Regions from separate parts of the Homo sapiens genome. Here region 2 is linked to region 1. Evidence: fine-mapped expression QTL. A gene starts in region 1. The other region holds a variant in brackets. All regions are shown on one strand. Distances are from middle to middle.

What was found.
Region 2: its variant is fine-mapped to the expression of EBF4 in whole blood (TOPMed, PIP above 0.99).

The regions. Positions count from the first base shown.
Region 1 is chr20:2,685,913-2,700,986 of GRCh38, forward strand. It overlaps EBF4 (EBF family member 4), which reads left to right and starts at 6,868. Exons shown (of 17, transcript NM_001395167.1): 1 at 6,868-7,870. The coding sequence starts at 7,734. It overlaps LOC105372507 (a long non-coding RNA gene), which reads right to left and starts at 6,708. Exons shown (of 3, transcript XR_937210.3): 1 at 6,154-6,708; 2 at 5,428-5,552. RefSeq lists enhancers at 8,039-9,023, 11,497-12,040, 14,847-15,074.
Region 2 is chr20:2,732,641-2,747,714 of GRCh38, forward strand. The region is part of intron 6 of EBF4 (EBF family member 4); the gene reads left to right. Among named protein-coding and RNA genes, the nearest start is that of EBF4, 47 kb to the left of the region's middle. RefSeq lists an enhancer at 5,922-6,503 and a silencer at 10,656-10,705. The variant A/G (reference allele first, on the strand shown) is at 9,078.

The DNA.
Region 1 (15,074 bases):
CAAAATTATGAATACACAATTATATGTAACCATGTGAACCTGTCACGAGGAATATTCGAGGGTCCTTGGAAGGGGCCGGTGTAGATGAAAGCCTGAAGATTAAGCCTCATGGAGAATCAGCCTCTGCCAAGTCCTCTCCCCACTTCACCCGGGACAAGGGGAAAAATAGCTCCCTCCTGCCTACCCTATATTCCCCTCACCCCCTACCCCTACCGCACCCTGCTCTACCTCAAGGATAATAGTTTCCTTTCTTCTAGACCCCCACTCCCCCACCCTCCTCCTACCTCCCCAGCAATTTGGGTTTTTGTTTTTGTTTTTTGAGACAGTCTCATTCTGTTGCGCAGGCTGGAGTGCAGTGGCACGATTGGCTCACTGTAACAGCCTCTTCCTCCTGGGTTCAAGCACTTCTCATGCTTTTTTTTTTTTTAAATATTATGCTCTTGCTTTTTTGCTTTTAATGTAATAGTTTAAGTATAAATATTTGTCCCTAGTATCTATTTGGAAAATGAAATAAGCTGCTTAATGTCTCCAACAAAGACAGTTATATATCTTTCCCACTTCCACAGGAAAACCCAAGGTGCTGAACGCCCAGAATAGCAACCTTACACAGGTATAGTGTTCAAAAGTTTGTAAAATTGTTTTCCTCGTGTTTAATTTTATTTCACCTTCACAACTGTGTGCTATCATTCTCATTTGATGGGAAACTGAGGCTCAGTATAAGTTTACAAATCCAGTGAGTGGCAGAGATGGGATTCTGACTTAAGTTCAGCATTTTAGGAAACTCAAGGCAGGCGCGGTGGCTCATGCCTGTAATCCCAGCACTTTGGGAGGCCAGGGTGGGTGGATCGCCTGAGGTCAGAAGGTGGGGACCAGCCTGGCCAACATGGCGAAACCCCGTCTCTACTAAAAATACAAAAATTAGCCAGGCGTGGTGGCCCACTCCTATAATCCCAGCTACTCGGGAGGCTGAGGAAGGAGAATCACTTGAACCCGGGAGGTGGAGGTTGCAGTGACCCTAGCTCGTGCCACTGCACTCCAGCCTGCGCGACGGGAGCGAGACTCCATCTCAAAAAAAAAAAAAAAAAAGAGACTCAAACGTGATCTAGAATAAACGCACCTACTGCCAACCGGATGTTGGGTCAAGTGAGAATGAAGACAATGTAGCCATAGTACTGAAGTTCAATTTACGCCAGTGGCGAGACATTGATTTAAACCAAGTAACTTGAACTCAGGTTTGCTCCCCATGTACTTGGAATTTAACTGCGCTGAGCTTTTACTTATTTATTTCAAGTACTCTATAGTAGTTCTGAGCCCCTGCCTCCTGTGTTGCTGGGACTAGAGGCACATGCCACTGCACCCGGATAATTTTTGTTTTCTTTGTATTGTTTTTGTTTCATTTTGTTTGTTTTTTTCAGTAGAAGCGGGTTTTTGCCATGTTGGCTGGGCTGGTCTCGATCTCCTGGCCTCAAATGATCCACCCTCCTTGGCCTCCCAAAGTGCTGGGATTACAGGCGTGAGCCACCGCGCCTGGCCCTCCCCAACAATTTGAAAATGAATTTGATCTTGCCCCACCGGTAAATATATATATATATGTGTGTGTGTGTGTGTGTATATAATATTTCAAAATTGTTGCCATTGCCTATGAGTAGCTAAGGGGCAGCCGTCAGGGATAGTGTTGGGTGCTGCTGCAGTTTTAGGTTTGAGACTGCAGGGAACAGCCGTGCTCTGCAAAATAGCAGGGAGTGGGCATAGCTTGCTGCACTGGGAAAACGGTCCCCTTCCTCTTCCTCAATGGGCATTGAGACCGGGTGTCTTTGAAGTGGTTTGTGATTGGCAGGTGTGTGAACAACCAGGACCAATGATCCCAGAGCCTGGGGATAGGAGCTCGACTCTCCTGCCAAAGGGTCCACCACGATAGCTCCTATTGTTTTATTATTCAAGATTGAATAACTGGGCCTAGATGTGGGATGGAATGGATCCTAAGGCAAGACTAATACTTGTGGTGTGGGGTTTTCTTGAAGCAATTGAAGAGGCCTCAGGAATCAACAGCGAGGAAGGCCCAGAGCTGGCGCATACCTACCAGACCACCTTCTTGGATGGCCCTTGTCATTCTGGATTTCTTCATGGAACTATGAGAATTGCCATAATTAATGCGCGCTTTAGTTTTTGTATTCCTCCTTTCATTTTAATTACCATCGGGGATCTGACAGGAAGTGGATCCAAGTGCCGGCATCACACTCTGGGGCCTCCGGGGGGCGCTATGGCCCAACACACAGCGTGGCCAAGCGCGCCTCAGCCTAACTCACCACTTCCTATCTGTTTTATACGGTTTGCACCCGCTTAAGGCGGCGGAGGCGTGGGGGAGTTCTGCTGATGTAAAAAAAAAAAACATTGTTTTATGACTAGACCTACAGAAAAAATGTCCAAACTCCTTAGCATGGCATGTTAGGCACCAGCATGACCCTCCCGGTGCTGGGTGCTAAAACCTCCACCTTGAAGGAAGTGCAGCAAACCCATTCATTCCGCTCTGCTAGTCCTTACACAAGCTGCTCCCGGGCCCCTCCTCACCTTCAGGCTCAGGCCCTTTTTCTGTGCTTGTCCCAGGACTTGCTCCGCTTCTGTAACAGCCCAGGTCACTCCAGAGTGACATTGAGCATTCATGAGTCTCCTGCCACCTGACTGTGAGCTCATAAGGGCGCCACCTGGGTTTCATTATCTGCTCACTCTCTAGCACTGGCCACTCACAAAAAAGCCCTTCTCGTGGACATGAGCACAATGAAAGGGTAGAATGAGACCCAAGGCTCTGGCCTAAGGGTTTGTGGTGAGCCCCTGCCAGAAAAGAGTGGCATTCTCTGCAGGCGTGCACCACGCTTCCTCTGTCATCACCACCCCTGTAGCTCTCTGTGGCCACAGTTGGAGCACTTCGCCCCACCCCACCCACCAAATTCCTTTCTCATGGAGAAGATGCAGCAGTTGGAACGGGACAATATACAAAGGAACTAAGATAAATAATGCATGGCCGGCACAGTGGCTCACACCTATAATCCCAGCACTTTGGGAGGCCAAGGCATGAGGATCACTTGAGGCCAAGAGTTCGAGACCAGCCTGGGCAACATAGCAAGACCTCTGTCTCAAAAAAAAAAAATATATATTAGCCAGGCATGGTGGTGCACACCTGCAATCCCAGCTACTTGAGAGGCTAAGGAGGGAGGACTTGAGCCCAGGAGTTTGAGGATGCAGTGAGCTATTATCGCGCGACTGCACTCCAGCCTGGGTGACAGGGTGAGACCCTGACTCTAAAAAAATAAATAAATAAAAGGTTAAAAAATAAGATAACTAATGCAAAATAAAAGCGCACAGAGGGTTCCAAGAAACAACAGACTTTCACCTGGATCTAAAGCAGAGACACTCACCTCTGACCCCCAAGTGCTGCCCCAGAACTGCTCATTGACCTTCCTCCCTTCATCACCCCTTGGTTCAGCAGCTCTAACCCAGGAGCCCTTCTCTGGGGCTGCAGGCTCTGGGAAGCCTCAAACACCATCCTGGCTGGTTTTCTGTTCCATGTGGTTAGGATAGAACAGAAACCCACGCAAGTTGGGAGTCTGCCCCAGCTATGACTGAGCCTTAACTCAGTGCCACTTTCCTGGGCTGACTGATTCCACCTTCTGCGCAGGTTAATTCTGAGCATCTATCCCCCAATCTATCTTGGGGACAACCTTCCAGAATGAAAAGCACTCCAACCAAATCACTTCAACCATCACAAAAAGGAATGCTGCAAAGTGAGGGCATTCCGGCAGGAAGGGCCAGCCAGCATGAAGGCTGGAGCTGGGAGACAGGGAGCTGGGTTTGGGAAACGGTGTGATCTCCCATGCTGGATAAGCAAGAAACTCACACAGCAAGGGAGTGGAGGTAAGGCTGGCCGGCAAGAGAAATTGGATAGGGCATCAAAGGGCCTAGAATGTTCCCAAACTAAGGGCCTAAATGTTTATTTGAGAAGCCACAAAAGACATTTAAGTTTCTAAGCAGGCGATGGCCCAATCCAAGCAACACTTTTTAAAACTGTGGCAGGAGGATGGGGGTGTTTGGGGGTGAGCAGCTGGGGACGGGAGCTAAGGGAGGAGGCTGTGGGCAGAACTGGGAATTCCATATCTGCTCCAAGCCAGGGTGGAGTCCAGTGGAGGAAAAGTACGTTTTGCTGTTAGATATTCTCTGTGGGCACTGGGGTAGGGAGGAAAGGGAAGGGGGACCCGTTAAGACCAAACAAACAGGTAGCTGCAGGACAGGGAGAGAAAAGTATTGGAGATGATTCCCAAACTCCAAGCCTGGTGGGCAGCAGGAGGAGGTGCCCAGCACAGACACAGGGGAGTCAGGAAGAAGAGCTGGCTGGTGGAGAGTGAACCTGTGGAGACCAAGAAGCCCCATCCCAGCCTAGGGACAGAGCCTCTTGGGATAGGGACCCTCCCCGGAGGCAGGTGCTCCTCTCCTCTCTGAGGGCCAAGCCCAGCCCTGTCCTCACCCACTGATGTTCAGGACTGACAGAAGTGAGAGTCCCATATGGGGAGACCATTTCCTCAAAGATGTTCTCTGAGACTGTGGAGGAACGTGAATTCTGTGAGGGGAGAACAGAAGAAGAGCGCCAGGCACAGCAGCTTGAGGTGCTCAGAGGGCAGAGGAGAAAGACAGTGTGCTCTGGTCATCAGGGCAGTTTCCCAGGTGTGTGTAAATATATATACACCAGATATATATATTTCCCAGGTGTGTGTAAATACATACACATGCATATATATATGTGTATATATATATATATATATATATCTGGTCACCAGGGTGGTTTCCCGTGTGTGTGGGGTTGGGGGGTGGGGTAGCCCACTGCTGCCAGGAGGTCCCAGGCCCTGAAGCCCAAGAGAGACCACGGAGTCTGAGAGCAGAAGCAGGAAGGCAGGGCTGGAAGGGAGCCAGCACACAAGGGCCCCAGGAGTGGCTTGCTGGGGGCCAGTCAGGCATCCTTGGCAGAGCGTTCCTGTGAACGGTCTCAGACACAGGAGGGGCAGAAATTGAAGAAGGAGGCGAGGAGGAGGGGACAGTTCTTTTAAGAATGGGGAGATCTGAGCAGAGAAAAGAACATATTGAGACACAAACAGGAGATCGGTGGGGTAATCTCAGGAAAGGCAGAAGACAGGACTAAGCAAAAAGGTTCCACATCCATCTCCACAGTGGAAGACCGAGAGAAGAGAACGGGTGAAAAGACAGAAACGAGGAGGAGCATACGCCGCTGATGGTGCCAGCAGGGTTCTGCCAAGATTCCCTGAGTCCTCTCCACTGGGTAAGAGGAAGGGTGTCTGCTGGAAATGAGAGAGCCAGAGGTGGGTCTGAATGTTGGGGAGAGGAGTGGAGCAAGTGTGGAACAGCTCTGGGGGGGCTTCTCACATGTAATGTGTGTACAGGTCTTGGTAAATTGCAGGTTCCGATTCAGCAGGTCCCGGCAGGGCCTAAGAGTCTGGATTCCTCACCAGCTCCCAGGTGATGTCAATGCTGCTGGTCCGGGGACCACACTGTGAGAAGCAAGATTTAGAGAGGCAGATCAGGAGATGGAGAAAGAGACTGGCTTAAGAATTGTCTTAAGGAGAAACCCATGTTTGATAATCCCACCTAGGGTAAAAGCTGAGACCTGAAGGAGTCCTGGTGGGAATGGCAGCCCCCTGTGGGTGATGGGGAGAGGCATAGAGAGAAGGGGTGGTAAAGAGACCAGGAAAGGAGGTGAGAGGGCCTCTGTGATGGCAGGAGAACCAGCAGTGCCCCCAGGACGCCTCATCTGGGCCAATGTGTGACAGAACGCTAACTCACACTTGGAGGCCCCCCAGAAGAGGATGGGAGTGAGTTGGAGCAGGAAGGTGTTATTGCAGGGGTGTCTGAGCGTGAACATGGCAGGCAGGGCAGGTGGCCCCCATGCTGTTCTGCAGGAAAGTGCTGGACTCAGTCTGGGCTTGCTCGAAGCCTGGCCAGGACAACGTGGGGAGAGGGGCAGAAATGTCTCTGCCCCACGGTCAAGGGCCAGACGACTTCTGTGCCAGGAACTAATAAAAAAAAAGGAATGGGATCTGAGACGGGACGCGGCTGGGGAGAAACAGGAGGTGAGCTGGGCTCTGAGCCTACCTGTCCAACTCGCAATCAGAAATCAGGAGGTTCCTGAAAGGCACAGATGGAAACTGAAAATGCTTTAGGCTTAGGTAACCCAGCATCAGGAATCGGGATGGTTGGATGCAGGGACCTCGCCCAGCTTGTCTGGGGCCGCAGCCTACGGCAGGGACGTTTCAGTCCTTAGCTGGGGTGAAAGTGAGGTCAGGGTCGCCGGGGAAATGCGGGAGTACAGTCACGCGGGAGAAAGACGTCAAGAGCGAAAGCTCGGAGGCGTCAAAATGAGCAGCAAGTCCAGGCACAAGGCGTCGGGCGCGGAGAGTACGGCGGGTGCCGGGGGAGGGAGATGAGGCCGCGAAGACGCCGGGGCTTCGTCCGGCGGCGACGGGGAGGCCGCGGAGGTTCCCGAGCGCAGCGGGGCGCGCACCTCCCGCTCGGGCCGGGCTCCCTCGCCGCGCGGCCCCGGATCCTCCCTGCGCGGGTTTCCGTGGCCCCCGCCGGGCTCTTCCGTTCCCTCCCGCGGCCTCGACCAGGCCGCAGCCCCCAGCCCAGGCGACCGACTCGCCAGGGTCCGCCCCGCCGCCGCGGCCCGGGCCCGGCCGCTCCTCCCCCGATGATGTCACGTCCCCGGCCGCCCCTCGGCCGGCCGCGCCGCCCCGCCCCCGCCTCCCCCGGGCCCCCGTCCCCTGGGCCCGCCCGCTCCCGACATCCCTCCTCCCGCCTGCGCTCCCTCCCTTCGGCTACCGCTCCCCCGGGAGCGGCGGCGGCGGCGGCGGCGGCGGCGGGATGGCCCGGGCCCGAGGCCAGGCCCCGGGGAGCGGCGGGCGGCGGCGGCCGCGGCGGGGCGGCGCGGGAACCGGGCCCCGGGGGGAGTCGGCCGGGCTGCTGCTGCTGCTGCTCCAGGTGCTGCCGCCCGGGGCTACGGCAGGGCCGGGACGCCGGGGCACGCGGGGCGCTGGCGCTGGCGGCGGCGGCGTCTGCTGGCCCGGCGCGGCCCCAGCCTTTCCCCGGGACGCGCGGCTGCTGCTGCTCCTGCCGCCGCTGCCGCCACTGTCGCCGCCGCCGCCGAGCTCCGCGCCCGCAGCCTCCGCCTCCCGGATGGTAATCAGCGCCCCGCGCTGGCGCCGCGGGCGGGCGGGCGGGCGGGAGGTGGGGGCGGCGAGGGGGAAAGGGCGGGCGGCCCCGCGCCCCCGCCTTGCCCGAGGCAGCTCCCGGGGCGCTCGGGCCCCCCCTCCGACGACCGCGGCCCCGGGCAGCCGCCAGAGCGCGCCTCTGGGGCGCCTCCGCGCGGACCGGGTGCGGGCTCCGCTCCCCGCCCTCCCCGCCCCGCTCGCAGTCCGCCCGCCAGCGCTCAGGCCGCGGGGGAATCCCTCCATCTCCCCGCCCAGCGCCCCAGGAGGGGAGGGGACAGCGCCGGCGCCCGCGGACCCGCTTTCTCCGAGGGAGCGCCCAAGAGGCGAGCGCGCACTGAGCCACCCGGACTCGGCGCTGCGCTGCTGGAGGCGCCTGGTGCCGTCGGGTCGGGCTGAGCTAGACGCCCGCAGCCTCAGCGGGACCGGATCCGGGGCGGCGGGGGCGCTCACTCACCGCGCGCCCTCATGTTCCCTGCGCAGGACGCTCTGCCCCGCAGCGGGCTGAACCTGAAGGAGGAGCCGCTGCTGCCCGCCGGCCTGGGCTCAGTGCGCTCCTGGATGCAGGGCGCGGGCATCCTGGACGCCAGCACCGCGGCGCAGAGGTAAGCGCTCGGACCGGACCCGGTGCGCTCGGGTTGGACGGCTGCGCGCCGCCTCAGCTCAGCTTGCTGGAGCTGCTGGAGCCAGGGGCGGAAGGAGCCCTAACTCTGGACGGTCCCGGCGAGCTCCCCGGCCCACCCCGTCCGGAGTGCCTGTGCTGCCTCCTGAGGCTGTGGGGCGGGCTGGGGCGGGGCTTCTGCCTCCACTCCGGGCTGCCCCGGTAGATTTCTGACGGCCGCTCGCGGGTGCGGCGGTGAACGCCACCCCAGCCGGGCTGTCTATGGCTCTGAGAGAAGAGGCAGAGCTCCCAGCCATGACCCACAGCCACCGGCCGTCTAGGAACGTCCAGCCCCTCCTTCCTGGGCAGTCCCAGTGACTCTCCTTGTCCAATTCCGCAGCTCTCTGTCAGGAAAGGCACGAAACCCAGCCCCCTTTTTCCTTTCCCACGCCCCTCAGAGTTGGCGGATGGGGGTGTGCAGAGCCAGAGAAGCGGCTGGGGGCTGGACGGTGGCGAAGAGATGAGGTGGGCAGTCGGCCTGGCTGGACTGATTGGCCTGGGAACTGGGCAGGGCCCCTGCCTTTCCCTCGGGTGTTTTTCTGGTAGGTCCTTTGGAAGGCAGAGAGTCCCTGGGAACCCAGCACCCGCGCCGGTCTCCTCTGACTCCTTTGCAGGGGTCTGGGAGTCTCAGTAGGGGGTTGACTCCAGGATTTGAAAGCGAACTTTAAAAGTTTATTGACCTGCCCCCAAAGCCCCTGCACCCCCTGGCTTTTTGCACCTTCAGCTGTGACCATGGAGGGAGGCATTTAGGTATCCTATGGGGAGTCACAGTGGTTAGGATTAGGGAGGTGCCAGCTCTGCTGACAGCTGGGACAGGGTGGGCACTTGGCTTCCCAGAAGTCTGAGCTGTTGCAGCAGCCCGAAGGGATTCTGAATGGGGGGCTTAATGCAGACCGGGCCTGACACAGGAGCCCACATTCACACTCCGCAGGACGCCTCAACCTCACCGTGTAACAGACACACACCGCGCTTCATGTGCAAACTGAAGCCGTTTCTGCACGCCGGTCCTTTCCTGGCTGTCGGGAGGGAACGCTGGGGGGCTCTGGAGCTGATCTCTTACGGAAGAGAAAGGGTCTTGTGGATGAATTAATTTCCAAAACTTTTACAAGGGATATAGCTATATTCTAGAAAAATTGGAAAATAAAAAATTTAGTCCCTCCTCTGTAATACAACTACTGTCAACATTTTAGTGTATTTCCTTCCTATTTTTCTTCCCATTAACTTGTGTTTTCCTGTGCTATGCTTACAATTCCACCTCCTGCCTATTCTTCTGTTGGTTCTGGCTTTTTTTTTTTTCAACTTGAGAAGGTTAGTTTCTTAACATGGCCCCCTCTTTGGCCCCACCACCTGCTGTGTGGCGAGAGCTCTTTGTAAGAGTGGGTGAGGAGTGCTGATGGGGGCCTCTGGGAGTTAAGGTTCCATTTCTCTGCAACCTTTCCCTCTGTGCCTACCCAGAGGCAGGTCTGATGAAGGGGAAGCAGACGTGAAGGAGGCAGTGCCCTTGGAGACTGCGTGGGGTTCAAGAAGTGTGGGGATAAGGCTTCCCCCAGAGCATGGGCCACAGCAGTGGTGTCTGCGCATAGTGGGGTTGAGTGGGCTTGGGGTGTCCAGTCTGACTCCCCACATTGTGAGGGCCACATTGCTGGGATGCAGAGGGCTTCCGCAATGTGAACAGGGGCTTTCTTCAGGCTCGGTCTGCTAATCCCCAAGTGTGGAGACTTCTCTGTCTCAGGACATAGACTAGGAGCCCCCACTCGCTTTGTTGTTCAGCTGACTTTCCTCCCTGTCCCAGAGGGAGCTGCCTCATCCTTCCTCCCCACTCTTCCCCGTGTTGTCTGTCATCACTACAGTTGTATCTGGTTCCTCAGTCAGTCCTCTGCACGGGTCTTCTCATCCCAAAACAGCAACAATGAAAATTCCTCCCCCTGGCCCTGCCTCCGCCTTCATCACGGCCTGGTTTCTCTCCCTCTCATCTCTGAGAAACTTTCACGGAAGTGCTCTCCCAAAAGACTCCCTGGGATCCGAGAGTTGGCTTTGACACCTTCCTCAGCCTCACCCCACAGTTGCCTGATTGTCAAGGCTTAGGAATGTTCTTTTCCGTGTCCTAGTCCCAATCTCAGTGCCCTCAGCCACCACTTTTAGCAATGAAACCCCCTGGCCCTCCACCCGCTTCCTCCCTGGCTTGAAGGTTAACTGCACCCTGGTTACCACCTCAGCCTCCTGGCCCAGTGCCTAGCCCCAGCCATTCACCACTCCCCTAAAACCATCTTCCCTGCATTGGGGACCAAAGCAGTATTTCCAAAGTACTTTTTTAAGATCATGTCTCTCTCCGATTACAAATAAAGTGACCAGGCTGGGCGCGGTGGCTCACGCCTGTAATTCCAGCACTTTGGGAGGCCAAGGTGGGCGTTTCACTTGAGGCCAGGAGTTCGAGACCAGCCTAGCCAACATGGTGAAACCCTGTCTCTACTAATAATACAAAAATTAGCTGGGCGTGGTGAAGCATGCTTGTAGTGCCAGCTACTTGGGAGGCTGAGGTGGGAGGATTGCTTGAGCCCGGGAGGCAGAGGCTTCGGTGAGCCAAGATCGCACCACTGTACTCCAGCCTGGGCGGCAGAGTGAAACTGTGCCTCAAAAATAAATAAGTAAATAAATAAAATAAAATAAAATAAAGTGACCAACCCCCAAGCCCCACTGCTTCCTCATGGATATCTCCAACATTCAAGGCCTATCATGGTCTGACTCCAGCCTTCCTCCCCAGCCTCCTCTGCATGATGCTTGGCAGGCAGTGGATACTTGGAGAATTAGCTGCGCCTCCAGTAAGTGCTATGGTCTATTGAAACAATCCCTCTGCCCTCAGCACCCGCACATCCCCTGGATTAAGTCTCACCAGCCTCAGGACTCCCTCTTACACCCACCGACCCCAGCAACTGCTCTTTCTGTGCCCTCCCACCCTGCCCACGGGAGTGGCTTTAATGCTGCCTACGAATGCTTACCATAGGCCAGCATCTGCTCTCCTCTGCCTGTCCCGGTCCTCCTTGCCCTGCCAGCTGGGGCCTTCCCCTAAGGCAAGGGTAGCGGTCCGTTCATCCTTGTGTCCACAGCACCCAGGGCAGGCTCAGGCAGTCCATGGGGGATGGGGGTGATGACTGTCTGCCGGAGGAAGCAGTAATGTTTCTCAGAGGCTCCCAAGTCCCCTTATATTGGTTCCCCTCTTGACTTTGGAAGACTCCAGGTTCTACCTGACCCAGGAATCAGCTACTGGAGCAGCTTCTCCTGCCCAGTTCTACAGCTTGACTTTTACAACAATGCCAAGATTTTACAGAAGGTGGGTGGGGAGGAAAAGGCCCAGAAGGCCTGCTAAGATCAGCGAGGGAGGCTCTGCCAACAGGAAGGAAAGTTCTGAGCAAAAGAGGGGTAGGGAGGGCCGGGTGCGATGGCTCACGCCTGTAATCCCAGCACTTTGGGAGGCCGAGGCAGGCAGATCACGAGGTCAGGAGATCGAGACCATCCTGGCTAACACGGTGAAACCCCGTCTCTACTAAAAATACAAAAAATTAGCCGGGCGTGGTGGCGGGCGCCTGTAGTCCCAGCTACTCAGGAGGCTGAGGCAGGAGAATGGCGTGAACCCGGGAGGCGGAGCTTGCAGTGAGCCGAGATCGCGCCACTGCACTCCAGCCTGGGTGACAGAGCGAGACTCTGTCTCAAAAAAAAAAAGAAAGAAAGAAAAAGGGGGTAGGGAGAGCAGAGGGGCTGCATACCCTTAAACTGGAGGCAATGGGGATGGGAACGCTGGTGGAGAGGGCTGCCCTCTCCCTACCAATGTCTTCCTACCAGGGAAGTCTGCACAAGGACCCCCTGCCCCTGCCCTGAGCCAACAGGACGTTATCTCTGAGATCCATTTGCCCAGCCCCAGCCCATCTTCCCCTGACTCCCCTGAAGACTCAAGTCCTCCTGCTGGCACACTCAGCACAGAAGTAGCTCTCTTCTCCTTCTGATGTGCTTCCCAGTCTGGGGAGACCTCTGGAAGGCCCAGGCCAGACCTCCCCCTGGAGCTGATCCCTGCACACTAGCAGGGCCCCGGAGAGGGAGGCCAGCTGGGGCTGCCTTTCCTGTAAGCAGCTGCAGGCTAGCATCCCTGCTAGGAAATGCTTTTGTTTGCTTTAATAATTCATAGCCGATTCTCAGCCTGGGACCTGGCAGGCAGGCCTGTGGGTGGGTGGCGAGAGGGTGGGCAGAGAGCAGTGGAGTGGGGAGTCTTTAGGTAGAATTGAGGGCCAAAAGAAGAGGGGGAGAGCAGGCCTGTGAGATTCTTCCCCCTCCCTTTCCCCTGCCCTCAGGGACTTTGGTCACTGTGCCAATTTCCTGGGGCAGGTGAGCAGGGCAGCTGCTGGGGGCAGTGGGAAGAGGGGATAGGGACCCTCCCCAGACCCAAACCTCATCTCCAGCAGGACCAACTGGACACAGGCTCTGGGCAGCTGCCTGCAGCCACCAGGTCCTCCCTGTGCAAGCATTGTTGAGGTGGGTGTGCCCCACTGGGCTACTGCTTTTATCTTCCCCAGTCTGCACCATGGCCAGGGGCTGGCATGTCAGGGGCTGGGCAGGGCCAGGCCAATAGATCTTGTCTGGGGCAGGAGGGCCAGGCCCAGCTTGATCATCATCAGCAGTCCCGGGGTCCAGAGGGTGCCTGCAGGGGAGAGCAGGGGCCAATGGGATGCTTGGAGGAAGGGGGGATGTAGAGGAAAGGGACTGGTGGAGCCCTGTCAGGATGGGGCTAAGAAGAGCTGGACTTAGCAGAGAGAGACTTTGGGGAAATCTGCGAAAAGGGATGAGATGCAGGAGTTTTTGCTCCCTCCACTTCCTGGGGTGATGGGTGTCAACAAAGAGCCTCCCCCCATTACTGATGAAAGTAGGGCTTGTCCCCCGTAGCCCTAGCATCCCAGACTCAAAGACAAATTAGGACCAGGGCAAGGCACGGCTCAAAACCTTGAGTTATCAAGGCAGCCAGGAGTTAGGTTTTGGTGGGGAGAAGGGAAGGCAAGACGCCTGGGGGTGCCTCTGAGAGGAGGCCGAGGCTCCAGCCTTGGTCACTTGTCCTCTGTGGGATTTGAGCTGGCTGTGGTTAAATTGCTTACTATAACAAGCATGCAGTCAAGGATGTGAAGAGCCGTGAGTGGCCTTGGGAAGAGAGAACAGAGACTGTGAGGGGGGCTTTGTCTGTACCAGACAGTTATGCTGTGGCAGGGGAGAGCAGCTGCCGCGAAAAGGGCCCTGGAGTGTCCTGCTCAGCCTTGCAAAGGAGCATCTCCCGGGACCTGCTGGGCAGCCCCAGCAATAGCAGTCAGACACCTCTGCAGCTGCTGGCATCTCCCCACAGGCATCTGCATACACTCTGGAGCACAGTCCACCTGAATGACCTAGTCTGTGAAGGTCAGGTTGCCCTTGGTGTTGACTTGAACCTGGATTCCCAACAGTGCTCAGGAAGTCCATGCACACCCATGCTCACTACAAAGCATGTTGACTCTGACCAAAATGCATCTGTGCAACGTAAATCTTTTTTGGTGTCTCAAACAGTCTCCTTTAATTTTCGGTCTATTTAAGAATGAAAGATGGAAAGGAGGTGAGTGGGGCACAATGAAAATACAAAAGCGAGCATATTCTCTTCCCAAATCTGGGTTCTTTAGTACGGGGGCAAATGTCCCACTGCCTCAGGACACTCTGGAGTTGAGAAGAAAGTGTTTTGAACATTGTGCTTTAAACAATCTTTTTAAGAAAGCGAGGAAATGTATAATTCATTTTGCAGTCTTGCAGAAGTGGTTAATGTGGCTGATTTTGTCACTCAGCTGCATTTCTCTGGAAAAGGCGTTTATGTGGCATGGTTTGTTCACTAATGATGCTAAGTGAATAAGCTGTTTCTGAATTATGGGTGCCAGCAGTACATGTGCCAGGTGAGGCAGTTCTTACTTGTATTTGTCATAAACTGATACCTGCCAAGCTGCACTCAGGCCCTTGGGGCTGTAGCTTTGCTGGCATCCATCGTACCCCAGGCCTCTGAATGGCTGGCAGTTGGTACCCACCCACATCCCCTCAGGACCATTGGTCAAGGCTCTGCCTCCCCTGCTGTTAGCTGCTTCCCTTTGCTTGAGGACTTGCTCAGGCTGCCAGAGCCTGCTCTGCTCAGCCCAGAAGTACCTGAGAAGTAACAGCCGTAGAAGCCCTCCACCAGTGACTGACTGGAGTTGGTGGATAAATACCCCAGCTCCCTCACCCATCCCTCTGGTGGGATAATGCTGAGGCACACATTCCATGCTGTTTCCAGAGTTCCCCGTGGGATGGAGCTCCAGGTGCCTACAGTGGGGACTTGAAAATGCACCCTCTATAGGCTGCTTTCTCATCTTTGTCTCACCCCCAACCCCCAGTGTTTCCGAATCACTGCCCAGATAACACTGTTGGTATTTGCATCCTTGTCCCCAGGTCTGCTTCTCGGGGAACCCAAATAAAATACTTGCCTCTCCAGGCTTCAGAGGCTCTATTCCCCCTTCTCTCCCCCTTTCTTTCTTTTAAATTAAGGATACATATCAAAAGACATACGTGCAGTTTCTCTCCACACCCCAATGTTTGTCTTAGGCAGCGCCACTTTGGAGCGGCACCATGAGATCAAAGACTTTGGCCTTGGTCCACATCTCTCTGTCTCTAAGCCAGTCTGAGAGCAGACAGTGGCCCCCACATCCCACCTGTGTCCCCACACATCTGCACCCAGGATGTGCTCATCAGGGGCCCTCAGACCACTCAGCACCTCCTGAGCTGTTTGAGTCTCTATCCCTGTTTCTTTTTTTCTGTTCTTTAGTCCGGGTTTGTTTTCTCATTACAAGAGCATCAGCTTGTAATCAGCTTGTAATCTCCCCTTCCCCTTCCCCAGCCCTCTCTCTTTGGAACTTGCATTTCCATTCTACAAGTGTTGATTGGTCACCTCCTGCATGTTGGGGTCAATCAGGAGAAGGAGGCACCGTCCACACCTGCCTCTGTTGCTCTCGAGTCCTATTCCCCGCAACATGCTGTTCCTCGTGTCCTTCTCCGTCTCTTGTTCATAGGAAGTATCCTTTGCTTGAGCTTCTCCAAGCCTGGCAGGGCTATGAACAGGGTGAGCC
Region 2 (15,074 bases), 47 kb after region 1:
TCTCACATAGACAGCATATAGTTGGATTGTGTTGTAGTTTTCTTTTTTAATCCATTCTGCCAATCTCTTCCTTTTAATGAAGCATTTCATCCATTTATATTTAATGTAATTGCTGATAGAACAGGATTTATGTCTGCCATTGTGCTTTGTGTTTTCTTTTTCTTTTATTTTTTCTTTTTCTTATTTTTTTTTGAGACGGAATTATAAAGAGTTCCCATATATCCCCTATCCCCACAAATGTGCAGTTGTCTTTTAAATTAGATAGGAAAACAAAATCATTACAAACAAAAATACATTTATGCTGTCTTTTATGTTTACCTATGTAGTGACTTTTACCAGTGCTCTTTATCTGTTCATGTTAATTCATATTACTGTCTTGTCTTGTTTCATTTCAGACTGAAGGACTCCCTTTAGTATTTCTTGTAGGACAAACCTGTTAGTGATGAATCCTCTCAGTTTTTGTTTATCTGAAAATGTCTCAATTTCTCCTTCATTTTTGAAGTTGATCATTTTAGAAGTTGATAGTTTTGCTGGACATGCAATTTTTTGGTCGATAGTTGTTTTCTTTTAACACAATATATCATCTCACTGCCTTCTGTCCTTCATGGTTTCAGAAGTTATGTGGTGATCTTATTAAGGATTCCTTATATATGACGAGTTACTTCTCTCTCTCTCTCATTGCTTCTCAGATCCTTTCTTTTTCTTTGGCTTTCAAAAGTTTGAGTATGATGTGTCTTTGTATAGATCATACACTTTGTGTTCATACTACTTGGAGTTTACTGAGCTTCTTAAGATGTGCTCAATAATGTTTTTCATTACTGAGCACATTTAGGAAATTTAGGGGCATTTTCTTGAATATTTTTCTGTCCTGTTCCATCTCTACTCTCCTTCTCAGATTCCCATTATACATATACTGGTATGCTTGATGGCTCCCACAGGTCTCTTAAGCTCTGTTCATTTTTCTTCATTCTTTTTTCTTTCTGCTTCTGAGCTAGATAATCTCAATTGGCCTATATTCAAGTATACTGATTTTTTTTCGTCCCACCAAATGAGATATGTTGTTGAGTTCCTCTAGGTCAGGGGTGTCCAATCTTTTGGCTTCCGTGGGCCATATTGGAAGAAGACTTGTCTTGAGCCACACATAAAATACATTAATACTAGCGATAGCTGATGAGAAAAAAAAAAAAAAAGCAAAAACATCTCATAATAAGAAAGTTTACAAATTTGCAGGCTAATTCAAAGCCAACCTGGGCTGCATGTGCCCCGTGGGTCGCAGGTTAGAGAAGCTTGTTCCAGGTATTTTTAAATTTTACTTATTGTTCTTTTCTACTTCAGAATTTCATGGGTTTTTAAAAATATAATTTGAAATCCTTTATTGATTTTTTTGGTGTGACTTCATTCTCATACTTTTCTTGAATTTTTTAGACATAGTTTCCTTTAGTTCTATGAACATATTTATAATTGCTCATTTAAAGTCTTTATCTATGCCAGCTGCAGTGGCTCACTCCTATAATCCCAGCATTTTGGTAGGCAGAGAAGGGCAGATTGCTTGAGCCTAGGAGTTTGAGACCAGCCTGGGCAACATGGTGAAACCCTGTCTCTACAAAAACCTACAAAAATTAGCTGGGCATGGTGGCTCATACCTGTAGTCCCAGCTACTTGGGAACTAAGGTGGGAGGATCACTTGAACCTGGGAGGTCAAGGCTTCAGTGAGCCATGATCACACCACTGCACTTCAGCCTGGGCAACAGAGCAAGACCCTGTTCCAAAAATAAATTAATTAATAAAGTATTTGTCTAAAAATTCTAACCTCTGGGCTTCCTCAGGGATAGTTCCTGTTGGCTGCTTTATTACAATGTATGGGTCTTACTTTCCTGTACCTTGCATGTCTCATAATTGTTTGTTGAAAACTGGACATTTTAATCATATAATGTTGCACTCTGGCAATCAGATCCTCCCTCCCAATTTTGTTCTTATTGCTATTGCTGTTTGTTTGTTTAGTGATTTTCTTGGACTAATTATATAAAGTCTATATTTCCTGTCATGTATAATCACTGAAGTTTCTGCTCTTGGCTTAGTTATCAGGCCATGATTGGACAGGCATTTCTTTAAATGCCTTGAATGCCAATAAGTGTTCAACCCATTGCCAAAAGGTTCTGTATGTGTGTTAAGACATGCCTTCAGTGCTCCAGCGATTTACAACTCTGCCTTGACCTTCACTTCCTGCTTGCTCAGGGCCTTGGGATAAACCAGAGGTGAGAGACCAGGGGCTTTCCATGCCTTTTTTGGGCATGTGCCTCTCCCTGCACATATGCATAGCTTTCTAGATCTCCAGGAATATGTCAGAGCTTTTCAGAGCCCCTGTGAACATCTTATTCCCCACTTTTTCCTTTAAAATATTATGGCCAAACTTTTATTTGCCCCCAACTTGTATTGCTGCCTCATGTAGCTGCAATGTTAAGCAATTGCCGCTGGCTGTTTTCAACAAACACCCTGAAGATAGGGTCTTTCCCACTAAGTAAGTTCTGAATCGGGTCAAATAACAAGTTCTGCAAATAAAGCTGTCAGGGAGTTGCTAGAAAGGTTAAAGAGTGAAAACTGACTGGGAATACAGCTTGTTGAGAGGCTCCAAACCCACTCTACCCCTTCCTATGGTTGCTAGCTTGCTAGTTTTCACAACTACAATAGTGGTTGCAAGGTAGCTGGTCTTCAACAGGGCTGGGGAGTAGGGGATGGGAATAGGGCAAATTAAAACACCACAAAGCTTTCTGTTCTTATTACAACTCAGCCATTTTTCTTGCCTCAATGTTCCTTGAGTTGTTGCACACATGTTGTTAATTTTTAGAGTTCTGAGAAAGTTGATTTTGACCATGTTTGCCAGTGTTCTTGTTTCTTTATGGAAGAATGGATTTTCAGAGGTCTTTACTTAGCAATTCCCAAAGTCCTGTCCCTGTAATTGTTATTTCTTACCTGGGCACAAGTTAAAAGTGCCTTGGGGGCTTTAGTCCAGCATTCATCCAGTCACAGTAATTTTTGACTCTTGAATTCTATCATGAATCAATCAGCACCTGTTGTGGGGCTGGGACTATGATGGATGCTTGGGAGAAGAGAGGCTTAAACAATGATCCCTGCCCTCTGAGAGCTTACAGAGCAGTTGAGGAGACAAATATAATTATGTAAACAACAATTTATAATTTTGAAAAAAATTCGTGTACTTGAAGAAAGGTCAGTAGAGATTATCTATAATTACATAATAATAAGAAGAAATAGAAAACAATGTAAGGCTTGAAGACCACACTATCCAATAGTACTTTCTGCAATGATGAAAATATTCTGTACCAACCAATATGGTAGCCAATAGCCACACATATTTATTGGGCACTTGAACTGTAGCTACCGTGACTGAGGAATTGAATATTTAATTGTGTTTAATTTAAATCAAATTTAAGAAATAACACATGGTTACTGTATCTGACATCACAGCTCTAAGACTTTAAATATTTGCTTGATTGGCCAGGATGACCCTGTGGCAGGGGTAGGGAAACATACCCTCCCATGGGAGGCTCATAGCTCTTCTCTGGCTCCTAGGGATAGATAGAAGCTGGGGGCTATGGATACTCCCTGGCATTTAATTGTGCCTGCTGCCTGGTGGGTGTTGTTCAGTGACACTATTGGAATAGTTTAGGTCCGAGCCACCTGGCAAAGGTAAGCTCTGGTCTACTCTATTGGGGGCAAATTTAGACCCTAGATCAGGCACATTATAAGTGCAATTAGATGAAAGGGGCTGTGGGAACTGCAAAAGAATCAGCCCCCTTCCTAATCCACTGGTCAATGCAACATTCCCTGTTTTCCTCTACAGCCACAAAACTAGCCCAATGTCATCCATCTCCTTCCACGCTTTCCAGCAGGATCTCCCACACTCATGCTGCAAGCACAGACTTCTGTCCAGATCCATTCTGGCAATCCCCCTTGAGGTTCCAGAACCTCCCTGCTGGGTCAGTGCTGAGGTGAGACTAAGGTTTCCCTCTTGCCACCTGAATGCACTGCACTTCCTTCCCCATTCCCCCCAACCCCCACCACTCTTTTCAGAGCTGAGAGCATTTGAGAGAGGGAGAAGCAGAGGGGGTTCAAGAGAGATTCGCTCATGTGCTCCGAAGGTCATATAGGCTGAGATGCCAGTCATAAGGACAAAGGACCCCTAATGAAGAGGAAGGACTTATGAGGAGACCTCTGGGCAGCCGAAGCCAAGCTTAGGGCCAGACTGGCCTCCATGCTGAGACAGGAGCAGAGATTTGGACAGTGCCTCCATAGAAAATTGGGGGAAGAGGACCGGGCGCGGTGGCTCACGCTTGTAATCCCAGCACTTTGGGAGGCCAAGGTGGGCAGATCACAAGGTCAGGAGATGGAGACCATCCTGGCTAACACGGTGAAACCCCGTCTCTACTAAAAATACCAAAAAATTAGCCGGGCGTGGTGGCGGGCGCCTGTAGTCCCAGCTACTCGGGAGGCTGAGGCAGGAGAATGGCGTGAACCCGGGAGGCGGAGCTTGCAGTGAGCCGAGATCGCGCCACTGCACTCCAGCTTGGGTAACAGGAGCGAAACTCCGTCTCAAAAAAAAAAAAAAAGAAAAGAAAAGAAGATTGGGGGAAGAGGGGGACCGCAGGCATGAGGCAGCCTGGGAACCATAATAGGTGGAGTGGAGGCGGCTAGTGAGTGAACCGCCTGCAACTTGAATAATAAGCTTTCTCCACAAAGTGGAGAGTTATTGAGGGCTGGGGACTCAAGCCAACCTGGGATGTCTGGCTATGTAACTGGGAGCAAGTTCTCACCTCCCAGAGCTTCAGTTCCCTAATGTGTAAAATAGAGCTGACCAATGAGCCTCCTGTGATTCTGGGAAGGAGAGGATGCTGTGGAGTTAGTAGGATGTATTCATGCAGTGCCCAGCACAGTGACTGCCTCAGAGTCATTTCTTACCCTCCTGCCACCCCACCCTTACCGATCATCTTAGAGTAAGTGCAGCTGAGCCTGGACGGCAGCAAGAAAGTTCAGGCCGGGCGCAGTGGCTCACACCTGTAATCCCAGCACTTTGGGAGGCCGAGGTGGGCGGATCACTTAAGGTCGGGACTTTGAGACCAGCCTGGCCAACATGGTGAAACCCCGTCTCTACTAAAAATGTGAAAAAAAAAAAAAAAATGGCACCTGTAGTCCCAGCTACTCAGGAGGCTGAGGCAGGAGAATCACTTGAACCCAGGAGGCAGAGGTTGCAGTGAGCCGAGATCGCGCCATTGCACTCCAGCCTGGGCAACAGAGCGAGACTCCATTTCAAAAAAAAAAAAAAAAGTTCAGTGGGAACCAAGGAGGAACGTCCTGCCTCCAGAACCAGAGCCCACAGTCAGGGGTAGACATCCCAGGCTGGGGATGGGTCTTTCTCTGAATAGGAAGGGGGACATTCTCACTTAATCTTCTGTCTGTTCTCTCTGCCCTGGGTGCTTGGTGAATTGTAGAAGATGCCAGGCCTTGCTAATACCCGCTACCCACCTCTCACCTGATTCATAGATAAGAGGTGCCAAGGTCTCTGGTCTTAGAGCCTGGGTCTCATCTACACCACCACCTCTGCCCAAGGCCAGAGGAACCCACAACTTCTTTCCTTCAGACTCCCACCTTCTCCTTTAAATCTCTTTCTGACTTGCAAGCACCCCTTCCAGCTCTGTGGCTTCTGCTGCCGTCCATGCCCCATCCCCCCTCCTCCCTCCTTTTTCTCTATCTCTCCTTCTCTTCTGTTCGTGGACTCTGATAGCCTGCATTGACAGAAGACTCCCCAGGCTTGAGAGGACTTGTGTGGGTGCATGTGTACATCTGTGTCCACACAGGCACACCATGGTGACCATGCACCAGCCCCTTCCTGCCGCTGCATGTGGCATGCCCAGAGGCCTCCCATTAGTGGCCACTCCACCCTTCCTCCTCTCCCCTCAGGCCTGGTTTGGGGAAAGTGGAGCCACTGCCACTCTTGGTGGGCAGCTGGGGGCCCCTTAGCAGTCTCTCCACACCCCCTCCCCTTCTCCTCAGGCCCCATGCCCAGCCCTGAGGTTTGGAGAGCCTAGTAAGTGCCCTATCAACATGTTAATCAAATTACTTAGGAGCTAAAATTGACGCTGTTCATTAATTATACAAGATTATGCTAATTGTGCATGCAAATGCATGCAGGGGAACAGAAGGTGTTCAGGCGCATGGTGGGCCATTAGCATAGAGGATGGGGTGCGGGTGCATTGGCATGCTAATGTATGCGCCCTGGCTATTTATAGTCCTCCAGCCCATCTGCACTGCAGCCACCTCTACCCGGGTGGGGATCATGGTGGGGAGGCCAGGTCCAGGCCTGGCAGGTGGCTGTGGCCCTGGGGACAGTCTATCTTGGCTTCTACCGCAGGCTAAGACCAGGAAGCAGCCTGGGCCAACCCCACATGGGCCTGAACTATTACAGTAAGCTCCTCATTTCCCTTCCCTTCTCTAGCGTAGGCCCTTTGGTGCCTGTTTCTGCCTGAAGGGAGACATCCCCTGTAGCCTTCCCATCACCCAGAGGATCCAAGTCCCGCATGATTTGGTCCCAACCCCAGGCCCCAAGCCACGCTGCCCTCCTCAGTCTTGTCAGGCACCACTGATCGAGTGAGCCGTCTGCCCCGTGGTGGAGCTGTTAGTCCCTTTGCATGGAGGGCCCTGCCTCCTACTTCTCGGTGAGATCCTCCAAGACCCATCACCCAAGACCAAATTGGAGCTCTAGGAAGCATTCCGCCTCCCCTAGGCAAAATAAGTGGCCACTGCAGATTACACTTGGCACATCCTCCTGCCGTGCCCACCACTCTGTCTTCCTGAGTTTCTCTTTCCTGTTGGGTTGTAATTTCCTTAAGATTTTATACAATGCCGCAGTGCCTAACACATAGAAGGTATTTAATAAATCTTTTTAAGTGGGTGTATGGAATGAATGAGGGGATGAATGGCCCAGCCCTCTGTGTCCTCCTCTGTCCCTGAGCTGAGGGTAGAGAGAAGCAGACAGTGAACACGCTGGAGAGCCAGAAACTGCTTCAGTTTCTTCGGAGGCTCATGGGAGCCCAAGACAAATCTTTTAGGATAAAAATTAGCGGAGATCCCTGTCCCCTTATTTCCCCATCTCAGGCTGCAGTGCCAGCTTTGGGCTTGGAAACACATATCCAATTTAATCTACCCTTCACTCTTAACCTGCTGTCTTTCCCAAGGCCTTCACAGGACACACTGTTGTTTGGAACATCCTGCCCCAGCTCGTATATCCATTCACTGCATACCTTCTTTCTAGATCTGCACTGTCCAATATGGTAGTCTCGAGCCACATGTGACTATTTAGATTTATGTTCATTAAAATGGCTGGGCGCAGTGGCCCACGCCTGTAATTCCAGCACTTTGGGAGGCCAAGGCGGGTGGATCACCAGAGGTCAGGAGTTCATGACCAGCCTGACCAATATGGTGAAACGCTGTCTCTACTAAAAATACAAAAATTAGCTGGGCATGGTGGCAGTCGCCTTTAGTCCCAGCTACTCAGGAGGCTGAGGCGGGAGAATCGCTTGAACCCAGGAGGTGGAGGTTGCAGTGAGCCGAGATCACGCCACTGCACTCCAGCCTGGGCAACAGAGCGAGACTCCGTTTCAAAAAAAAAATAGATTTATGTTAATTAAAATGAAATAAAATTCAGTTCCTCAGTTGCACTAGCCACATTTCCAGTGCTTAGTAGCCATGCGTGGCTAATGCATATCATTCTGGAAAAAGTTCCCTTAGGGAGCACTGTAATCTAGACACGTTCTTCCTTGCCCCTGACAGACCTGTAGTGGAAAATGCACTCGGGCTCTCCTTCCAGCTCTTTGAGTTACTGACAGCTTTCTCTTTGGAAGTGAGAACATAATTTCAGCCCTAAGTATCTCATGGGGATGCAGGGAAGAAAAAGCTGGTGAAAAGCCTTAGCTCTGTGACCTAAGTTTTCTTAGGGTGGGATTCCTGGAAGCAGAGCCTGAGATGGGGATTCTTGTGAAAGAGGTTTATCAAAGGAGAGCTCTCAGGAGAAAAGGAATGAGTATAGAGGGAGTTTAACAAGGAGGTGGTCTCGGTCGGAGTCTAGCGTCAGCCTATCCCATGCAGAGGTCTGGAGTGTGAATGGCCAGAGAGTTGGTCCTCCTTGTAATGTCAATCTGTCATTGGCTGTGGGCTACTGGTGGGGAGTATATGCTCTTGGCTGAGGGTAATTCTCAGATTACCTTGGGGCAGCTGCGAGCCATTTGACAGTCTACACTGCAGCTGGGGCATGAGGGAATCAGGCAGGCATCAACTCACTGTAAAGTTCCTGGACGTTGTCTTCCAAAAGAAGCTCCAGGCCAGGCATGGTGGCTCATGCCTGTAATCTCAGCATTTTGGGAGGCTGAATCAGAAGGATCGCCTGAGCCCAGGAGTTTGAGACCAGCCTGGGCAACGTACTGAGACCTCCGTCTCTACAAAAAATAAACAAAATTAGCTGAGCATGGTAGTGTGACCTGTAGTCCCACCTGCTCAGGAGGCTGAGGTGAGAGGATCACTTAAGCCTGGGAGGTCAAGGCTGCAGTGAGCCAAGATCACACCACTGCACTCCAGTCTGGGTGACAGAGCGAGACCCTGACTGAAAAAAAAAAGCAGCTCCATCCCACTCTGCCTTCTACCCCCTGAAAACCTAGAATTTAACAGTGGACTCACATCAATTGCCTTCACACTTGCCTTCTCTACTGAGTGTCTCTTTTGAGTAAAGCACTGTGCTTGGGGAGTTAATGCAATGGTGTCACCCCTGAGAAGTAGTGTATAAGTTAAATGTTTGCACTTTAGCCATACTCAACCCAGAGTTTGCTTCTTTGGTAGGAAATACTCCATGGACAAGACGTTTCTTTTCATTTCATCTTGAGCTGTTTTTATGGGGAGGAATAAAAAGCGTTTATAGACATGATTACGAAGGCTAAACCAAGTTCAGGATGTGGTAAGGTGGGTGTGTGGGTGAACTACTCTGAGCTTTCCTTTAAGTCACAGGCATCAGAGTC[A/G]TGATGCATAACTACCATCCTTTAGATACTTCATTAGTTGGATGACCACTGTTCACAGCTCTTCTTCTGGTCTTTCATTAAAGTTTTTATTGAGAATGTGGAATACAGGCAGAATGGAATAATGAAGCCCATATAGCCCCAATGAGCTAGAACAATTTTTAACTATTGGTTCCATTGTTTTTTAATACTGAAGATCTTCTCGACTGATAGCAGCAGTCACAACAGCCAAAAGCCCAAAACTAGGAGCAAGAGGACCTGAGTTTGACCTCTGCAACCCTGTTGAATTTGTAACCTCGAGGAAATCCCCACAACATACTATCCTGGTCCCCACACAGCCTGCCTCTCAGAGCTGCTTTTGAAGGCAGGCTTGCCGCTGCAGTACCAGCCTGGGTCGGACTCTGAGAGCCCCACTTAGAAGGACTTCTAGGACTCTTGTCGGCATCAGTGGTTCATAAAGACCCGTTTTCATATCCTTACTTTAGCATTGACTGTGACTTTGTCAAGTCACAGTCAATAGCTTAGCCTTGGTTTTCTCATCCGTAAAGTGGGAATGGTTGCAGACCGACACGACCTGGGGGATTGAGCAAGATAATGCCAAAGTGACAAACTCAGCAGCGTTCTGGGCAGTTGCTAAGGTGCTGAGTGCCTGATGGGTTAGACCTGGTTCCCTGTTTTTCTTTTTTTGTTGTTTGTTTGTTTGTTTTGTTTTTGCATAGTTACCTCCCTAATGCATTTCATTTGTAAGTCATGCTTGTATTTATGGTGTTTTCTTCCAGTAATCCTAATGGAAGCTTCTGCGACTTGGCCTTTCCCTTACTCCCTTTTCTGTGGGGTCTGGATTAGGAAGCCATGCCCTCCAAGAGCCTCATGGCCACAGTGGGATGGCACTGGGCACTGGTCCTGCAGTGGTCACCCTCCATGGGGATCCTCAGGTCAGAGAGGGCTGTGGACTTGGGCTCACTTTACTCCTCCCCACTCCCTGCCCCCTGCCCCCATCCTGGTCAGGAAAAACGGGCTTTCCTAGACTCCTTTTCAGCCCCATAGGGCCAGGAGTGGGGAGGGGTGCTCAGAGAACACCCCCAGGCTCATCCAAGCTTTAGAGGTGGGGGGTGGTTCCATGCTGACAAGCAGGGCTTCAAGCCCCTCAACAAAGTGCACATCCCTTCCTGCCTCAAGTCCCTACAGGGTGTCCCAGGCCCAGAACCTTGTCCTCACTTACCCAGCCCCTTCCCAGGCTCTCTTCTTTCAAGGGGAACACCTGCCCGCAGTTCCCATGTCCACATGTGTTCCATGTGTGTGTCTCCCTCCAACTCCCCTGCCCACCAGGTCTCTCACTCTCCCCCAGTCCCCAGCCCCCACATCTGGCCTCTGTGCAGACATGGCTTGGAGGACCTGCTGCCCCTCCTTCTTCTTCCCTGACTCCATTCTCATCCTTCCCTGACTGCTCAGGTGGAATAAAGTGTCACCCCCTGGGCGTCAGCCAAGGGAGAATTCTCCTGGGTTGTTCTCACGTTCGCCCTTCCAGCCTCTGCGGTGTGTCTGTCTCCCCCTGGTGGGCAAGGAGAGGACCAGGCAGCGGCACCCGGAGGGTCGGCAGTCTCTCTAGGTCCAGGGGAGAGCCCGGGCACTGCTCCTGGTTCTAGACCCCAACGGAAGTCCTCTAATTCCAGGTCCAGCCTTGGAAGGCAGGAGCCTTTAGGGGCGGGTCACCTTTGCCAAAGCACAGTCTTCAAAATGTCAAAAGCGTGATTCTCATACAAATTGCTACTGAGCATGTATCAAAGTTTTCTATAACTTATTGATGAGGGAACCAATGGGATGACAAAGCTGATTCAAAGAAGACGAAGAGAAAGTGATACATGTGCGAGTGTGTGAGTGCGTGCGTATATGGAAAGGGGTTGAGGGGAGGGAGGGAGAGGCAAGGGATTGTGTGGAAAATACTGGAATAAGATGGCCAAATTAGATATAAAGCTAGTTAATGTCCATAGGACAATTTTATCATCTTTAGGGCTAATTTCTCCACCAAACAGAAATTATTTACTTCTCCTGACAAATATCATTTGTTTCCAAGTCATATGAATTTGGGGGCGGGGAGTATAAATTCACAGGGTACAAGTGAAAGTATACAATGTGTGGTGATCCAATCCAGATATTTAGGGTGTCCATCACACAGGTACAATACATTTTGGCTAAGTATAGTCACCCCACTCTGCTATCAAACATCAAGTTTATTCCTTCTATCTTGCTATTTGTACCCTATAACCCACTTCTCTTCTCCCTGCCCCCCAACTCACCCTTCCCAGTCTTTATTATCTGTCTTTCCATGCTCTACCTCCAGGTCATCAAAGTTTTTATTTATTTTTTTTATTTTTTTTTTTTTGAGACGAAGTCTCACTCTTGTCCCCCAGGCTGGAGTGCAATGGCGTGATCTCAGCTCACTGCAACCTCCGCCTCCCGGGTTCAAGTGATTCTCCTGCCTCAGCCTCCCGAGTAGCTGGGATTACAGGCGCCTGCCACCACGCCCGGCTAATTTTTATATCAGGTCATCAAAATTTTTAGCTCCCACTGACAAATATCATTTGTATCTTATCAGTTTTCTACAAATTAGCACTTAACTTTATAGTCTGTGCTCCAATCAATCAATAGTAAATGCGAGTCACTTTCCCCTAGAGACATACACTCCAGTGAAGCATTGTCCGATATTAATATAATGCAAGCAAGCCACATATGTATGTAAATATGCTTTTTTCTTTTCTTTTTTCTTTTTTTCTTTTCTTTTTTTTTTTTTTTTTGAGACAGGGTCTCACTCTGTCACCCAGGCTGGAGTGTAGTGGCTCAACCTTGGCTCACTGCAACCTCCACCTCCCCCGTTCAAGCAATTCTCGTGCCTCAGCCACCTGAGTAGCTGGGACTACAGGCATGCACCACCTCACCCAGCTAATTTCTATATTTTTAATAGAGATGGAGTTTCGCAGCATTGGGCAGGCTAGTCTCAAACTCCTGGCCTCAAGCGATCCACCCACCTCAGCCTCCCAAAATGCTGGGATTACAGGCACGAGCCACTGAGCAAGGCCTCAAGTCACATATGTAATGTTAAATTTTCCAGTAGCCACAAGAAACTGATACAACTAATTATCATAATGCATTTTATTTAACCCAATATATCTAAAAGATGAGCATTCCCACATGAAATCAACATAAAAGATTACTGATGAATTATTTTATATTCTTTTTTTCTAAGTCTTGGAAATCTGATGTGTGTTTTACACTTACAGCACATCTCAAGTTCGGACTAGCCACACTGCAAGGGTTCATGCCGCGTGGGGCTGGTGGCTATAGTAATGGGTAGCGCAGCTCCAGTGCGGTAGTTCTCAAACTTCAGGGTGAACCAGCATCACCTGGAGGGCGTATGAATGCAGAGATGTGATTCTGACTCAGCAGGTCTGAGGGGAGGCCTGAGATTCTACACTTGTAGCAAGGTCTCAGGTGACGCTGACGCTGCTGGTCTTAGGGGGTGGTGCAGGCTCTCTGACTGGGAGAAGCCTCGTGGACTACCAGCTGGAAGGGAGTGAGGTTTCAGCCACACCATGGATGGTTTCGACTATGTGCTAGCTCTGAGGACAGGCCCAAAGGGAAGGGAGAAGGGGACTGACCCTCAGCCCCCACTGCAGGCCATGGTCTTGTGCAGCTGCTTTTACTCACCCACACTCTGCAGGTAATGCTAGCCAGGCTCAAACACTGAGGTGTCCCCATAGACAGAGGTGCTGGCAGGTCCCTAGGGCTCTCAGAAAGGGGTGGTCCTTGAAACCTAGAGTGGCCAGAAAATGGTGGCTGTACAGGGCGTGAGAATTGGTGTGGACCCAAAGGACAAATGAAACCTGTACTGTAAAGGGACAGTGGCAAGACCTGCTGAGCAAAGGCTTGGGGAAGGGCCAGTGAGGGAGCAGGAAACCACAGCCTTGGGGAGGGCAGAAGTAAAGGATGTCCCAGAGGCAGGACTAGAAGGTGTCACGGCAGCCGTCAATCGCTACTCTCCCTTCATGGGTGTGGAAGGATTTACCTACCCCGGGTCATGCAGAGAGTCCAGGCCTGGCCAGAGCCCCTATCTTGGCCCCTTCCCAAGGACCCTTCCTCTTGATCCTGTAGGTTTGAGTGGAGTGGGGTGCAGTGGGCACATGTGTCATCTTTTGGTGCAGTCCTATGCTTGTCGCATCTTCAGTGGTATCCAAAGGTGAGCCTTCAATCCCTTTAGGACAGAGACCATGCCCCATCCTGGTGTTTTTCCCTCCATCTAGCACCTGCCAAAGGACCGAGCACACGAGTACTTAATTTAAATGAGCTGGTCTGCCTGTGTGTGTGAGTAGGGAGTCTATACTCTGTCACATGTGAATGTGGGGCATGGATGAGGAACATGTCGCACATGTGGGTGTAGTGTGTTTACACCATGGGGTGTCATAAGGGGTGTAGGGAGTGATTAGTAACTAATAAGAGAGAAATGGAGTGCGCCCACTGTGCAGGTGTACCTCTCAGGAGCACTGAAGGTGTCTGCACCTTGGGGTGACCCATAGGGATATATATGGCATCTACACATTGGTGACTACTGTTTGGGGGCATAACAGCTGTCTGCACTGCAGGGTATCCTGCAGGGGTAAATGGATTGTCTACACTGTAGGGGTGCACCATTTGGGAAATATAGGGGGTGCCCACTGTGGGGGAACATGACAAGTGCTGAGAATGTAGACAGAGGCAGGACCCCAGGGAGAGGTATCTCTAGGAAGGTGACTGCCACCAGCTCCCAAGGAGGGGCTGCCTGCTGGGGACACCTCAGTTCCAGGGCTGGTGCTTACTCCTCCCAGCACTTGGTGACCTCCTTTTTGGGGACTGGGCTTTCAGGACCTGTAACAAATTTTCCTCTGAACAGAAATTTAATGTTTGCAGACTTTGGAGGCAACTCTGGTGAATTAAATGAACATTCAAATTTGGGGTATATAAGTAGTACATGAGTAACTATACCGTGGTTAAAGTTCCACCCCAGGTTTGGGACTCTTGTATTTGCTTTAGTAAATAGTATGGTAAAAATATCTCCCAATTGGGTGGAGGTAAAATGAGGAAGCTGACTGACTGGAGAAACTCATACAGTGGCCCAGGAGGCTGTTCCACATATCAGGACCTACTGCAGACGTTAGCCCTGCACTCTACAGTTTGTAAAGGGTATCTTCCCAGATGCTCACAGAGTGCTATAAGGCATAAGGCAGACACTGATCATATTCCGAGTTTACCAAGAGTTAAACAGGGCTGGGTGCAGTGGCTCATGCCTGTAATCCCAACACTTTGGGAGGCCGAGGTGGGTGAATCACCTGAGGTCAGGAATCGAGACCAGCCTGGCCAACATGGCAAAACACCGTCTCTACTAAAACTACAAAAAGTAGCCAGGCGTGGTGGCAGGCCCCTGTGATCCCCCTGTAATCCCCTGTAACTCGGGAAGCCAAGGGCTGAGGCAGGGACAATTGCTTGAACCCAGGAGGTGGAGGTTGCAGTGAGACATGGCGAGCCTGGGCAACAGAGCAAGACTCTGTCTCAAAACAAAAAACAAAACAAACAAAAAAAAAAAAACAGGAAAAAAAAGAGTACAACAGCCAGAATGTTGTCCATGGCTACCTTACTGGTAGGTGACAGGACCAAGGACCCACCCTCCCAGCCAACTGCCAGGAAGGAGAGGAGGACAAAGTGCTCATGTGTTTGTCTAAAAAGCAACCTCATCAGCGCATATGTGTTTTTTTCCCAATAACTCTATGTAAAAAAGAAGACATTCACGGTGTCTCTGTACCACATGTCTGACAGATACACCATGTGTATATGGTGGGTATGTGCTCTGTATGATTAAGCTTTTCCTATGTGTATAATGGATATAAAATGTGTGGGAGGAGGATATGCCATGTGGGAGGTGAATTTGCTGGGGGCATCTGCTATATGGGATGGCTTTACAGTATTTGCAAT